2 separate regions of the Homo sapiens genome follow, and region 2 is linked to region 1. A link means that fine-mapping ties the variant in region 1 to the expression of a gene that starts in the linked region. Tissue or cell type: putamen. Region 1 holds a variant in brackets; the other region holds the start of a gene. All regions are shown on one strand. Distances are from middle to middle.

Region 1 (8,109 bases):
GCATGATTGGCTGCCAAGAAGACATCCTGGAATCAAAGGGTACCAAAGGATAGTAGGTCCAGCCCTTCCAATAAGACCTAGGTAAGATTGTCTGGTCTTGTCCCATTTCCCCATTGACCAACAAAAGAAGTGCTAATCTAGTATAGAAACGTTAGACTCAGAAAAGTGGAACTTTTCCAAGGCAGTCCAAAAAGTCTATTGAATACGACTGGCCAACTCAAAAATTTGTATATCAACATGTAGTTATTATGAATTAGGTGATTGTGTGCGTGTGTGTATGTGTGTGTGCTGATGAAATTTTGTGATTACAAAACTTTTAAAAGTGGAAATTTTTGCCTCTGCTATTTGTCTTAGGTTTCTAATTTTAGAGGTCTTGCATTATGGAATTTTCTAAGCTGCTGTATGAGACCTTGTTCATGTGCCTCCATAGATTCTCATTGCTCGCCCTGTCCCCCAGGTCCTGAGCAGCTCGCTCAATGGAAGGCCCCTCATCTTCTCCCTCTGGGTCTCAGTCCTCCCCCGCCCACTTGGCGATGGTTGGGCTCTCCATGGTGTCCGTGGTGCATGTCTTGGCAGGAGCTGCATCAACCTTGCACCCAGCCATCACCTAAGGATCGGGGGAGTCTTGGCCCATTACTCCACTTCTGCGCTACAGGCAGCGGGACCTGGGTTCCCTAGTGGGTTGCCCTACTGGGTGAAGACTTTGAAAGTGTGGAGGGAACATTCTGACTAATGAAGGCAGGAGATGTGCTCAAAGGTTCCATTCATTTCCCTTTCTTCCCCTGCTGGACTCTTCTGAGGGGAAATGGTTTTCCATGATCTGTCTGGAAGATGGGCCACATGGCCAAGCAACTGGCTGTGTTGTCTTATAAGCTGTGGCTAGATAAGTGGATAAATGAGGTGGACCTTATATTTGCTAACTTGATCTACTTCCTTCCACACTCTTGCTGTCCTGGGATTGTCCTTTTTTATAAAGCCTCAGTACATGGGTAACTGCCACAGGTTTTGTTTTCTAGGAAACGCAGGTAGAGGAGTGGGTCTAGAACGCAGACCCTCAAGACTGGATTTTGGGTTGAGTTGCCTATCTGTCTGAAAGCATTAGGAACTTCATTGCTTGTGGAAAATGAAATGCTGACAATTCTGGCATACAGCAGCATCCTGAATTAGCTATTGCTGTCGTGACAAATTACCATAATCTTAGTGGCTTAAAACAACACAAGGCATTAATTATTTTTTTTTAAATTAAATTTAAAAAATTTTTTTGAGATGGAGTCTCACACTGTTGCCCAGGCTGGAGTGTAGTGGTGTGATCTTGGCTCACTGCAGCCTCTGCCTTCTGGGTTCAAGCAATTCTCCTGCCTCAGCCTCCCAAGTAGCTGGGACTACAGGCACCTGCCACCATGCCCATCTAATTTTTATATTTTTAGTAGAGAAAGAATTTTCACCATGTTAGCCAAGCTGGTCTCGAACTACTGACCTCAAGTGATGCACCCACCTCAGCCTCTTAAAGTGCTGGGGTTACAGATGTGAGCCTGGCCTAATTTATTATCTTAAAATTTGTAGGGTGGAAGTCTGATAGAGGTCTCACTGGGCTAAAGTCAAAGTGTCAGTAAGGCTGTGTTCTTTTCCAGAGGCTCCAAAGGAGAAGCTGGCTCCTTGTCTTCTCTAGCTTCTAGAAGTCACCTGTACTTTCTTGGCTTGTGGCCCCTTTTTCTGTCTTCAAAGGCCAGCAATGCAGTAGCAGCTCCCTGACCCTTATTCCATGGTCACTTCTTACCCAGTTAGGAAAGTATCTCTGTCTTTAAGAACTCGAATGGTTAGACTGAGCCCATTTGATAATCCAGGATAATCTCCCCATCTCAAACTACCTAACCTCAATCACATCCACAAAGTCCCTTTTGTCTATATGTAAAGTGGCATATTCACAGCTTCTGGAAAGTACATATCTCTGCAGGGAGCATTCTTCTGCTGATTACTCATAAAAATTACTGAAGTTTTCACTTGTGGTTTATTGAGAAGTGTAGTTATAAGACAAGGCATTGGTAGATGCGTGACTGATGCATCTGGTTGTTATGAGAGGAACAAAATTTATAAGGATTGTGGCATGAGGTATCTTCTTTTGATGGAATTAGTAGCTTTATAAAAAGAGAATCACAGACACATTTAAGCCATGCTTTGTCAGCCAGAGTGTTCCTAAGGCAGCTTTAAAGGACTCATTTCTCACAGCTACCATGAAGCCTGTGCTGAAAATCCAGCTCTGGATTTAATTATAAGGGCGGCAGAAATGCAAGACATATTATGCGCACCATCTCAACAAGGTTCCTCTGACAAATTTAGCACCCTGAGAGGAAAAGATGGGCACTTTGAGACACAGGAGGGTACCGTAAGGGTCCCAGTTCCTCTGGATCCTCCTCATTGGCAGAAGCAGCTCCATCACCCTTTCCAAAGGAAAACAAGCCCTCTTGCTTCCCATTGTCTGGATACTTTGAGAAGCTTCAGGTGAGGGCGAGGCAGTCGACTGGCTGGTTCTCCTCAAGCTCAAGTCCACCACCCTCATTGCCTTCAGGCCGATAACCAGATTCAGGTCTCAGCTCAGCCTGAATGGGGAAGTAGAGCCCTTCTTTAGGGTGAAGTGGTCCCTATAAAGGAGTTAGAGAATGTGGGTAAGAAGTGCCCGGAGGAAATGAGGCAGCACATCAGAGGTGGATCTTGAAAATGTTAGTCCTGAGAGGGAGGAGTATAGGCTGGATAGGGGAGAATTCTGTGATAGAGGGGCACCCATAACTCAGGATTCAGTGTTCCAGTCACACACTGGGTGCTTATCTTAACAGCTTGCTAGAAGGACCCCTTGAAACCTAAATTGGGCAACACCTTTCAATGAATAAGATGGAGATGCCATAATTTCTTTGCCTTAGAAAGTGGTCAGAAGGCTCAAGGAGCTTTTGAGGTTTTGAGGATGGATGGACTGCGGATGACTTGAGAAGCCACCATGTGACTATGTCCTACATGCAATTTTACATCTCTGCTTATTCAAATTTAAGGTTGTTTCTGGATTCATGAATTTGAGCCACTGGGCAAAGCAGAGCTTTATTCAATTACTGATTCATTTATTTAATAAATATTCACTGAAACCAATTATATGTCCACCAATATGCAAAGGTGCCTATGACATAAAGAAAATCCCTTGCCTTGAGGAGTTCCTAATCTAGTATGGAAGGCAGACCCCTGGGGAGAAAAATCATCTACTCTCAAGACCACTCCACTGAAAATCCTTCAGTTATATGCTGTGGCATATGAATTTCAGAGCAGTTGTCCTGTAAGTGCTGCTTTTCTAACACGATAAAATGTTATGATCTTATGCTAGGTGTAGAAATAAGTGCAGACACTTGAATAGGCTTATAAACATTTCATCTGAAGACTTCAATTTGAAAAAAGACTCAAGAGGAAAAATATATAGATTCAGACAGTTGTTTTTTAAATATATTTGTATTATTTCTTTATCTTTTGAGATTGTCATTTGGAGGCTATACAATTGTTTTTCAAGAATTACTGAAAATGCAGACACTATTTTGGTGAATTTTTAATTTAAATAGATGTGGGTTTAGAGGGATATGCTTCAGGCAAAAATCTCATTAATTCTTCTTGCTTTCCATTTTGAAATGAACAAAAAGGCTTATGAATGAGGGGCAGAGGAAGAAAGATGAATTTCTGTCTTATTTCATTTCATCTGCCACTCAGACATTGTAATTTCTTTAAAGCAAGGAAAACCACTTAGTTTTTGATAATTTAAGTTCCTCACATAATTAATAGATAGTTTTTCTGGTCTATCAACTTCATCATTTTTTCAATTTTTTCATGTCTTGTAGTGTGAAGTAAGCATCACAGTAATAGCTAAATAAGATGATAAATCAGTATAACATGCATTTATTTTGATGATTTTTATTGCAATTAAAAGTTTGGAATATTATTATAAAGATTAATATCAATAAAATTGTTTTGGGAACAATTCATGGAAAATGATTATGGTAGGTAGAGGGTGATCAATAAATATTTGAATGACACTGCAGAAGGAGTGAGTTTATAATGTGTAAAATCAGCCATTTCCTTTACCAACAATTTCATTCTACTTCTTTGCATGAGGAGAATGTTTGTTGAGTGATTTTACATAATTAAGTAGAGAATGCTGCATTAGGAGTGCTGAATTCTGACATCAATTCCAGATGTGTTTTGGCAAATAGTATTATGAAAATACCATATTTTCCTCTTGTAAAAGAAATATGTTGTTTATTCATATATATATATATTTAAAAAATACAAGGAAGTTTACTCATATGGCTACCACCAAGAAATAATAACTGTTCATAGTTTGGTATCTATTATTCTAGTATTTATGTGTGTAACCATTTTATTAAGTAGACTTAAATCAGCAAAAGATATTATTTTTCCCTCAATGCCTTAAGATATGTTCTGTTGTTTCTTCATTCCCTGTCTCTTGACAATATTTCTGGCATTCTTCATAGTGTTTCCATTTTTCCTCTCTCTCACACACTTTATTGGCTATCGTGGGAATATTTACACCATGGAAATTGGCAAATGCTGCAAATCCACATCTTGCCCTGAGTCCATGTTTACTGCTCCAGGTAATTGAATACTAAGCCATTCAGTACATGATATTCCCTTAGTTCAAGGGATTGCTTTAGAGGTTGTCTAATCAATGTGATGCTTTGAAAAATTTTTTGGGAGTTGTGGGACACAGGAAATCTCTTTC[T/C]TTTTGGATGACAAAGAATATGGATTTACAGCCTGAACTTGCTGCTACCATTGTGTTACAAAGAAAAGCTATCCTGAAGAAACAACTCACACAGAAATAAAGTCAGGAGCAACATAATACTGAACAGGGAAAAGTTGAAAGCGTTGCCCCTGAGAACTGGAACAAGACGAGGATGCCAACTTTCACCACTTCTACCCAACATAGTACTGGAAGTCCTAGCCAGAGCAATCAGACAAGAGAAAGAAGTAAAGGGCATCCAAATCAGTAAAGAGAAAGTCAAACTGTCGCTGTTCACTGATGATATGACATATACCTAGAAAACCCTGAAGACTCATCCATAAAACTCGAAGAACTGATAAATGAATTAAATAAATTTTCAGGATACAAAATTCATGTACACAAACCAGTAGTATGACTATACACCAACAACAACCAAACAGAGAATCAAATAAATAACTCAATCCGTTTTACAGCAGCTGCAAACAAAAACAAAAACAAAAACAAAAAAACCCCGAAAAACCTAGGAATGTACTTAACCAAGGAGGTAAAAGATTTCTACAAGGAAAACTACAAAACATTGCTGAAGGAAATCATAGATGACACAAATAAATGGAAACACATCCCATGCTCATGGATGGGTAGAATCAATATTGTGAAAATGGCCATACTGCCAAAATCTACAGATTCAGTGTACTTCCCATCAAAATAGTATCATCACTTTTCACAGAACTAGAAAAAAAAATTCTACAGTTCATATGGAACCAAAAAGGAGCCCACATAGTCAAAGCAAGACTAAGCAAAAAGAACACATTTGGAGGCATCACATTACCCGACTTTAAGCTATAATACAAGGCTACAGTTACCAAAACAGCATGGGGCTGGTGTGAAAATTGGCATGTAGACCAATGGAACAGAATAGAGAACCCAAAAATAAATCCAAATACTTACAGCTAACTGATCTTTGACAAAGAAACAAAAACATAAATTGGGGGCTGGGCGCCATGGCTCACACCTGTAATCCCAGCACTTTGGGAGGCCAAGGTGGGCAGATCACTGAAGTCAGGAGTTTGAGACAAACCTGGCCAACCTGGTGAAACCTCATCCCTACTAAAAATACAAAAATTAGCCGGGCATAGTGGCGGGTGTCTGTTATCCCAGCTACTTGGGAGGCTGAGGCAGGAGAATTGCTTGAAACTGGGAGGCTGAGGATGCAGTGAGCCCAGATTGTGCCATTGCACTCCAGCCTGGGTGACAAGAGTGAAACTCCGTCTCAAACACACCACAACAGAACATAAATTACGGAAAGATCACCCTATTCAACAAATGGTGCTGGGATAATTGGCAAGCCACATGTAGAAGAATAAAACTTGATCCTCATCTCTCACCTTATACAAACATTGATTCAGGATTGAACAAAGACTTAAATCTAAGACCTGAAACCATAAAAATTCTAGAAGAAGACATCAGAAATACTCTCTAGATATGAGCTTATGCAAAGACTTTATGACCAAGAACCCAAAAGCAAATGCAACAAAAACAAAAATAAATAAATGGGACCTAATTAAACTAACAAGCTTCTGCACAGCAAAAGAAATAATCAGCAGAGTAAACAGACAACCCACAGAGTGGGAGAAAATATTTGTGAACTATGCATTTAACAAAGGACTAGTATACAGGAACTCAAACAAATCAGCAAGGAAAAAGAAATAATCCCAACAAAAAGTGGGCAAAAGACATGAACAGACAATTCTCAAAAGAGGATAAACAAATGGCCAACAAACAAATAAAAAAATGCCATGGATGAAGCTGGAAACCATCATTCTCAGCAAACGATCACAAGGACAAAAAACCAAACACCACATGTTCTCACTCATAGGTGGGAATTGAACAATGAGAACACATGGACGCAAGAAGGGGAACATCACACACCGGGGCCTGTGGTGGGGTGGGGGGTGGGGGGGGCGGGAAGGATAGCATTAGGAGATATACCTAATGTAAATGACGAGTTAATGGGTGCAGCACACCAACATGGCACATGTATACATATGTAACAAAACTGCACGTTGTGCACATGTACCCTAGAACTTAAAGTATAAAAAAAAATACTCAGCATCACTTATTATCAGGGCAATGCAAATAAAAACCACATGTGATACCACCTTACTCCTGCAAAAATGGCCATAATTTAAAAATGAAAAAAAAAATAGATGTTGGCATGGATGTGGTGAAAAAGGAACATTTTTACACTGCTGGTAGAAATGTAAACCAGTACAACCACTGTGGAAAACAGTATGGAGATTCCTTAAATAACTAAAAGTAGAACCACCATTCAATCCAGTAATCCCACTACTGGGTATTCTTCACACAAAGGAAAGGAAGTCATTATATGAAAAAGACACTGGCACACACATGTTTATAGCAGCACAATTTGCAATTGCAAAAAATGTGGAACCAGCTTAAATGTCCATCAAACAATTAGTGAATAAAGAAAATGTGGTATATATGCACCATGGAAAACGAATCAGCCATAAATCGAAACAAAATAATGACATTTGCAGCAACCTGCATGGAGTTGGAGACCATGATTATAGGTGAAGTAACTCAGGAATGGAATGTTGTGTATTCTCACTTATAAGTGGGAACTAAGCTATGAGGACACAAAGGCATAAACATGATGTAATAGACTTTGGGGATTCAGGCGAAAGGGCGGGTGGGGCATGAGGGTTAAAGGACTATGCATTGGGTACAGTGTACACTGACCATGTGATGAGTGCACCAAAATTTCAGAAATCACCACTAAAGAACTTATTCATGTAACCAAAACCAGCTGCTCCCCAAAAATAATGAAAATGTTTGAAATATTGAGAGAATTACTAAAATGTAACACAGAAACATGAAGTGAGCACATGCTGTTGGGAAAATGGCACCAATAGATTTGCTGGATATAGGGTTGCCACAAACCTTCAGTCTGTAAGAATACGATATCTGCACAGCACAATAAAGTGAAGTGCATAAAACGAGGTGTGCCAGTATAAGCAGTCGAGACCTCAGTCTATGGGAAATACTCGGATTCACAAAATTTTATTTCCATGCCTGTGATGACAGCAGGAAATACGTACCCGTGACCATACAGACGCAGAATCCTAAAACTGAAAGTAAATGGAATTATAAGTTTGGAAATTGGTGCTAAGGACAGGGAAAATTGATTTGGGTAAATACTGATTCTAACAAGAATTGAAGTTCTGAAAACCCTACATCCAACACAAGAAGATACCTTGGAATGTGGTGGGCTTCCTGCAAAGACTCAGAACTTCTCCTTGCCAATGTAGGTAGAGAGTGTC
Region 2 (8,103 bases), 150 kb before region 1:
TCTTAAACTCCTGACCTCAGGTGATCCACCCCCCTCAGCCTCCCAAAATGCTGGGATTACAGGTGTGAGCCACCACACCTGGCTGAATTTTTACCTTAACATGGCCTTTTGCAAAGCCAAAGCTTTTATTTTGATGGGGCACAATTTATCAATTTTTTTTTTATGGATCATGCTTTTGGTGTTGTCTAAGAATTCTTTACCTAGTTTTAGATCTTGAAATTTTCTCCTATTTTTTTCTAAATGTTTTATGGTTTTGTGTTTTACAGTTAAGGTAATTTTGAGTTAAGTTTTGTATAATATGTGAGATTTTGGTCAGGGCTCTTTTTGATTGTTTGCTTGCTTATGGATGTCCAATTCCTCCAGCACCATTTGTTTAAAAGACCATATTTCCTCCGTTGAATTACTTTTGCACCTTTGTCAAAAATCAGTTGGGCATATTTGTGTGAGCCTATTTTTAGGTTTCTTATTAAGTTTCATCAATCTATGTGTCTCTCTCTCCAGCAATACCACACAGTCTTGATTATTGTAGCTATTATAGTAAATGTTGAACTCAGACTGTTTCTTCCCACTTTGTTCTTTTCAAAATTGTTTCAGCTATTCTAGTTTGTCTTTTCACATAAAGTTTATAATACTACGTCTGTATGTATAAAAAGTTTTGCTTGAATTTTAATAGAAATACATTAAATGTATATATCAATTTGGGGAAGAATTGACATCTTTACTGTGTTAGGTCTTCCAATCCATTAACATGGTAATATCTCTTCACTTATTTATCTTCTTTGATTTATGTCATCAGTATTGTGTAGTTTTCAGCAGGTAAGTCCTGTTCATGTTTTATTAGATTTACATGCATTTCATTTTTAAAAGGAATTTTAGGTGGTATTGTATTTTCGATTTGGGTCCATGTGTTCATTGCTTGTACCTAGAAATACAATTGATTTTTGTATATTTTTCTTGTTTCCTGAGATCTTGCAGGGCTCACTTATCAATTCAAAGAGTTTTTTTTTTTTTTTTTTGGTAAAATGTTTGGGATTTTATACACAGACAATCATCTTATTCTTGTCAGGCCTCTGAGCCCAAGTCTGCACGTATTCATCCAGATGGCCTGAAGTAACTGAAGATTCACAAAAGAAGTGAAAATGGCCTGTTCCTGCCTTAACTGATGACATTCCACCATTGTGATTTGTTCCTGCCCCACCTTAACTGAGCGATTAACCTTGTGAAATTCCTTCTCCTGGCTCAGAACCTCCCCCACTGAGCACCTTGTGACCCCCACCCCAGCCTGCCAGAGAACAACACCCTTTGACTGTAATTTTGCTTTACCTACCCAAATCCTATAAAACGGCCCCACCCCTATTTCCCTTTGCTGACTCTCTTTTCCGACTCAGCCCGCCTGCACCCAGGTGATTAAAAAGCTTTATTGCTCACACAAAGTGAGTTTGGTGGTCTCTTCACATGGACGCGTGTGAAAATTGTGTATAAATTACCTGAGGGTTGGTAATTCATAAAGAAAAAAGGTTTATTTGGCTCATGGTTCTGCAGGCTAAACAAAAAGCCTAGAGCCAGCATCTGCTTCTGGTGAGGGACTCAGGAAACTTCCCCAAATGGCAGAGGGTGAATGGGAGCTGGCATGTGCAGAGATCACACTGGAAGAGAGCAGAAGTGAGAGAGAGAAAGAGGGAAGGTGCTAGGCTGTTTTTAACAATGAGTTCTTGGGAGAACTCTCACAGGAGCCAATACAATGAGAACTTCTCATTACCCAGAGGACAGCACCAAGCCCTTCATGAGGGATCGGCCTCCGTGATCCAAACACCTTCCACCAGGCCCCACCTCTAACATTGGAGAATCAGATTTCACCATGAGGTTTGGATGGTCAGATATCCAAACTATAGCAACAATTATGTTATCTGTAAATAGTGAGAGTTTTCTTTCTTTCTTTTCACTCCATATGTTTGTAATTGCTTTTCTTGTCTATTGCACTGACAAGAACTCCCAGCACTATATTGAATAAAAGTGGTGAGAGCGAACACCCTTGCCTTGCTCCCAGTCTTATGAGAAGAGCATTCAGTCTTCTCTCACCATTAAGTATATTAGCCGTAAGTTTTTTGTAATCCGGTTTATCAAGATGAGGAAGTTCCCCTCTATTCCTGTTTATCTGAGTTTTTAATCATGAATGAATGTTGGAATTTGTAAGATGCTTTTTTTGTTTTTTTTTTTTTTGAGATGGAGTTTCACTCCTGTTGCCCAGGCTGGAGTGCAATGGCACGATCTCGGCTCACTGCAACCTCTGCCTCCCTGGTTCAAATGATTCTCCTGCCTCAGCCTCCTGAATAGCTGGAATTACAGGCACATGCCACCACACCCAGCTAATTGTGTATTTTTAGTAGAGACGGGGTTTCTCTGTGTTGGTCAGGCTAGTCTCAAACTTCTGACCTCAGATGATCTGTCTGCCTCGGCCTCGCAAAGTGCTGGGATTACAGGCGTGAGCTACCATGCCTGGCCTGTTTTTTTTTTTTTTTTGTAATGGGGGTCTCATTATGTCACTCAGGCTGGAGTGCAGGGGCACGATCACGGTTCACTGCAGCCTGGACCTCCTGGGCTCAAGTGATTTCCCCCCCATCTCAGTCTCTGGAGTAGCTGGGACCACAGGTGTACACCACCATGACTGGCTAATTTTAAAATTATTTATAGAAATGAAGTCTTGCTATGTGGCCCAACCAGTTTGGTCTCAAACTCCTGGGTTCAAGCAATCCTCCCACCTCGGCCTCCCAAAGTGTTTGGATTACAGGCATGAACCATTGTGCCCAGCTACTTTTTTTGTTTTGATCGAAATTATCATGTGATTTTTCTAACTTAATATAGTGCATTACACATATTTTCAAATATTAAAACAAACTTACATCTCTGGAATATATCCCACTTGGTCATATTGTACAATTCTTTTTATATATTTCTGAATTATATTTGCTAATATTTTGCTATGGATTTTTCCATCAATATTCATGAGAAGTGTTGGTATTTTTTTCTTTTTGTACGGTCTTTTGCTGGCTTTGGTAGTGGGGTGATTCTAACTTCATACAGTACATTGGCAACTGTTCCTTCCTCTTCTATCTTCTGGAAGAGGCTGTATGGAATTGGTGTTAATTCTTGTGTAAACATTTTATAGAATTCATCAGTGAAAGCTTTTGGGCCTGGAGATCTCAGGTTTTTTTTTTTTTTAGTTTAAAAATTACAATTACAATTTTCTCTAGTTAGAGGACTATTTAAATTACCTTTTCATATTAGGTTATTTGTAGTAATTTGTGCCTTCTGAAGAATTCGCTCATCTTGTCAAAGTTGTCAAATTTATGTTATGTGGTGTTATTTATGGCATTCCTTTTTGGTGTCTGAAGGTTCTGTAATTATATTCCCTGGTATGTTCCTCACATTGGTAATTTGTGTCTTCTCTTTTTCTTTTTTCTTTGCAGTCTTGCTGGAGGTTTGTTAAATTTATTTATCTTTTCAAAAACCAGATCCTTGGCTGGGTGTGGTTGCCCACACCTGTCATCCCAGCACTTTGGGAGACTGAGGCAGGAGGATCGCTTGAACCCACGAGTTGGAGACCAGCCTGGGCAACATAGAGAGATTCTGTCCCTAAAAAAATAAAATAAAAAAATCAACCAAGCCTGGTGACACACATCTGTGGTCCCAAACTACTCCAGAGGCTGAGGTGGGAGGATCCCTTGAGCATGGGAGGTTGAGGCTGCAGTGAGCTGTGATCGCGTCACTGCACTCCAGCCTGGGTGACAGACCAAGACCCTGTCAATCAGTCAATCAATCAATCAATAGCTTCCCTGGAGACTCCAGCCTGCCACCAGCTTTGGTAACTAGTGGCCGACTGTCAGGCCTCTGAGCCCAAGCCTGCACGTGTACATCCAGATGGCCTGAAGCAAGTGAAGAATCACAAAAGAAGGGAAATTGGCCGGTTCCTGCCTTAACTGATGACATTCCACCATTGTGATTTGTTCCTGCCCCACCTTAACTGAGTGATTAACCTTGTGAAATTCCTTCTCCTGGCTCAGAACCTCCCCCACTGAGCACCTTGTGACCCCCGCCCCTGCCCGTAAGAGAAAAACCCCCTTTGTAATTTTCCGCTACCCATCCAAATCCTATAAAACAGCCCCACCCCTATCTCCCTTTGCTGACTCTCTTTTCGGACTCAGCCCGCCTGCACCCAGTTAAAATAAACAGCCTTATTGCTCACACCCTGTTTGGCGGTGTCTTCACACGGATGCGCGTGACACCGATCTCTTTGAGCATCAGAAGCGCATGACACCGACCATCTTCTCTTTGAGCATCACAAGCGCGTTACACCGACCATCTTCTCTTTGAGCATCACAAATGGTTTTATTCATTGCTGTAGGCCAAGGGCTCAAGGCTGTTTAGCACGAAGTAGACACTGGGTAATCATTTCTTGAATGAAACACATTTTACAGATGAGGCAACTGAGGCTGAGAGAAGTTAAGATCACCCAAGTGGCGGCGCTGGTCACCTTTACATTGCAATTCACTAGGAAGTGTTCAGGTTGCTCTGACCGCAGGGCAGATATTGGGGCTGCGGTGCCCAGTTCCAAAGGTCAAAGCTTGCTCCGCGCCCGCCAGGGAGCTGGTCTAGCGGCTGCAGTGTTAACCCGAGGCCCCGCCCCCAACGGGTGGCGCGAGGCGGGGCGTAGGTGAGCGCTGCAGAGAGGCTGCGCCTTGGGCCGCCTGTCGCCTGTGCGCCTGCGCGCGGCGCCGAGGGGACGGGGTCCGACTCAGAAATGGCGGCCTCCATGTTCTACGGCAGGCTAGTGGCCGTGGCCACCCTTCGGAACCACCGGCCTCGGACGGCCCAGCGGGCTGCTGCTCAGGTAATGCCTTCCAGTCCGCTGTCGTCTCGAGGGTCGGCAGGAGAAAGGGTGAGGTGTGAGGGGTCCCGTGGCCCGGCTCGGGGTCACTTCGCCGGCAGTGACATTTTCTGGGTGCCCTGCAAGGCCCTCGGGCGACTTGCCTGGGAGTGCTGCTCGCCAGGACTACGAGCGAGCCCATGTTTGCGCGGCTCTGACCCAGCCCTTAGTCCGCGAGGATCCCCGGCGGCCCGGCCGTGGCTGCTCCTGCAGTTTCTAAGAGATGGGCGGGAGCAGGTGGGCTCTGAGTGGAGGTGAGGGGGTCAGGACATTTTCTGCTGCCATTCCGGCGTCTGGCACGGTGGGCTGAGACTTGCGCCGCCCCTTTTTGGGCAGGGGGGAATGCCCTTCAAAAGTACTTTTGTGTTTCTTGGGAGCTGTCATAGGTGGGAATGTCAGAGGACCAGCGGTGCTTACTGACTTGCCTTTTGTGGGGCAAGGTAGGGAAGTTTCCCCTCTCCTCCAAGTAGTTGTATACTGTTCTACTTGTTAATAGCAGTAATAAGATTATGTTTTCTACCTAACCAGTTGGAGAGGTAAGAAAATAATCTTTTGTATAGCCTTATTTCTGGATAGGCTATAGCATAATAGTTACTGGCCTTGTTTTGAATATTTGATGTGTGCCAGGTAATGTGCTAAGCGCTTTACGTGTAGTTTCTCAGGTTTTTCAGCAACTGTGAGGAAGTCATTCAACACCTGCATCATTGTTGAACATATTATGGTTAAGAGAACAAGTAATTTGGACTAGGTCATATAGGAGGTAAGATCAAAGCTGAGATTTAATCCCAGAGGTGTCTGGTTCTAAAGCCGTGTACTTGAGTTGGCTCCACAACTTCGAAAACAAACATCTTCCTTCCAACTTTGACAACAAAAAACTGTGGAAGGGCATTATTGGTGTCCTAAGTCAATTCCAGAGTTTTGGGTTTTTTTCTGAAGTAACTCTTCATACATGTCATAGTATGAATTGATTTAGGGCCCTCCCGCCCCTACCTTTTTTTTTTTTTTTCATTTTTATTGAAGTTGTTCATACTTTCAGCCTAGGGGTAGTGAGTTCTGTGAGTTTGCTTCCCGATAGAAGTGACTTTTTGACCTTGAACTTCCTTCTTATGAATCTTAGAAGAGTGCTATTTAGTTTTTAGAAAATGGGGAATTTAGTGACAAATACGTTTTCATTCTAGTCAAAATCTTTATCTTTTTGGAAGTTCATTTAAAAGCCTTCATTTCTCCTTATGGAAATTTCCAATATTATTTTCTTTATAACAGTTGCTGTCTTCTACCCTGGTATTAAGAAATGCAGCTCTAGAGTTTGGAAGGACCTTAGTCCAACCCTTTGCTTTTGTAGATGAGGACATAGAAGTACGGAGTCTTAAGAAACTCGTTCAAGGTCACACATTTAATTTAGCAATTTGTTTTCCACATTTTTTTTTTTTTTTCCTTGAGACGGAGTCTTGCTCTGTCGCCCAGGCTGGAGTGCAGTGGCGCGATCTTGGCTCACTGCAAGCTCCGCCTCCCGGGTTCATGCCATTCTCCTGCCTCAGCCTCCCTAGTAGCTGGGACTGCAGGCGCCTGCCACCACGTCCGGCTAATTTTTTGTATTTTTAGTAAAGACGGGGTTTCACCGTGTTAGCCAGGACGGTCTCGATCTCCTGACCTCGTGATCCTCCCGCCTCGGCCTCCTAAAGTGCTGGGATTACAAGCTTGAGCCACCGCACCCGGCCTGTTTTAAACATTTGTTTAAGTTCTCTGACCCTCCTCCAATTTCTTGGTATCTTTAGCCTAGTGTACCTTCGTTGAAAATAGATATTTCAGCATATGTCTTTAAGAATAAGGACATTCTTCCAAATAACCGCAGTGATCATACTTAGGAATTCAACATTGCTGTAACATGAATATATATAGTTTAGATTCAGATTTTTCTAGTTGTCCCCAAAGTGTTCTTTATAGACATTAGATTTTTTAAAAATTTAAACTGGGATGAGACCTTGTGACATTTTCTCTGACCAACTAACCAATTAGGTGCCACCTAGTGACTTATGTGCTAGTGACCTAGTGCTCTTATATGTGTTGCAGTTGTTTATTTACATGCCTGTGAACTCTGTGGCTGGGACCCAAGTGTCTTTATTTTTTTAGTGTCCCTAGCCCACTGTCTAGTTCATAGTCATCACAAAAAATATTTGAGTGTATGACTTTTTGCCAGGCTTATGCTAGTTACTCCCCTACCCACTAATTTTTATTATTATTTTGACGTATAATTTATGTACAGTAAGATGTACAGCTTAAGTGGATAGCTAGATTAATTTTTATGTATGTATTCACCTGTGTAACCATCGTCTGCATCAAGATATACAATGTTTCCAGCCCTCAGAAGGCTCTCATGTCCTCTCTCTTATCAATACTCCCTGACAGAAGGTAGCAACCAATTATGACTTCTGTCACCATAGGCTAATTTTGACTGGTTTTGAACGCTATAAAAATAAATCATGTAAGTATATATTCTTGTTTCTGGCTTCTTTCTCTCTACATTATGTTTGTGAGATTAATCCATCGATGTGTGAGCCATAGTACTTTTTTTCTTTTTATTTCTCTGTAGTATACTATTATATACATATACCACAGTTTATCCATTCTCCTGTTGATGGGCAATCAGCTAATTTCTGTTTTCTGTCTGTTATAAATAAGCCTGCTCTGGACACTCTAGACATTTTTATGTGTGCCTTTTGACAGATGTAAGGACTAATTTCTATTGATACATACCCAGGAATGGGATTTCTGAGTCAGAAGGTGGAGGTATACTAAACAGTAGTTTGAGAGGTTGCTGGGTTTTTTTTTCTTTTTTTTTTTTTTTTTAACTTATTTATTTGTTTTTTTAGACAGGGTCTTGCTCTGTTGACCAAGCTGGAGGACAGTGGTGAAATCACAGCTCACTGCAGTCTCAAACTCCTGAGCTGAAGGGATCCTCCTGCCTCAGTCTCAGGAGTAGCTGGGATTATAGGTGTAAGCCACTGTGCCCAGCTTGGTTGCTGGCTTTTAATATTGAAGTGACACTAAATCAAGGAATTGAGCTACCTAGGTCAAATGTTACCAAGGATTTTAGCTTGCTAAATGGATCAGAAATAAGTTGCTATTATATATGATTGATTTGTAAGACTAGTAGTTCTCATAACTGTAGGGTTCTTAAG

Which allele goes with the higher level. Alleles are on the strand shown, and positions count from the first base shown. SD is a standard deviation of normalised expression in the study named.
For the expression in putamen of the gene that starts at base 4,663 in region 2, allele C in region 1 goes with a higher level than allele T (large effect, 1.3 SD a copy in GTEx).

The links. PIP is the estimated chance that this variant, and not a neighbour inherited with it, causes the effect.
Region 2: it holds the start of SUCLA2-AS1, and the variant in region 1 is fine-mapped to the expression of SUCLA2-AS1 in putamen (GTEx, PIP 0.93).

What each region holds. Positions count from the first base shown.
Region 1 is chr13:47,847,363-47,855,471 of GRCh38, reverse strand. No RefSeq gene overlaps it. Among named protein-coding and RNA genes, the nearest start is that of LINC00562, 81 kb to the left of the region's middle. The variant T/C (reference allele first, on the strand shown) is at 4,769.
Region 2 is chr13:47,997,965-48,006,067 of GRCh38, reverse strand. SUCLA2-AS1 (SUCLA2 antisense RNA 1) reads right to left here and starts at 4,663. Exons shown (of 2, transcript NR_189308.1): 1 at 4,246-4,663; 2 at 3,377-3,633. It overlaps SUCLA2 (succinate-CoA ligase ADP-forming subunit beta), which reads left to right and starts at 4,795. Exons shown (of 11, transcript NM_003850.3): 1 at 4,795-4,888. The coding sequence starts at 4,799. RefSeq lists enhancers at 790-1,387, 1,986-2,583, 3,255-4,454, 4,831-5,020, 5,041-5,090 and 1 more and a silencer at 4,601-4,710.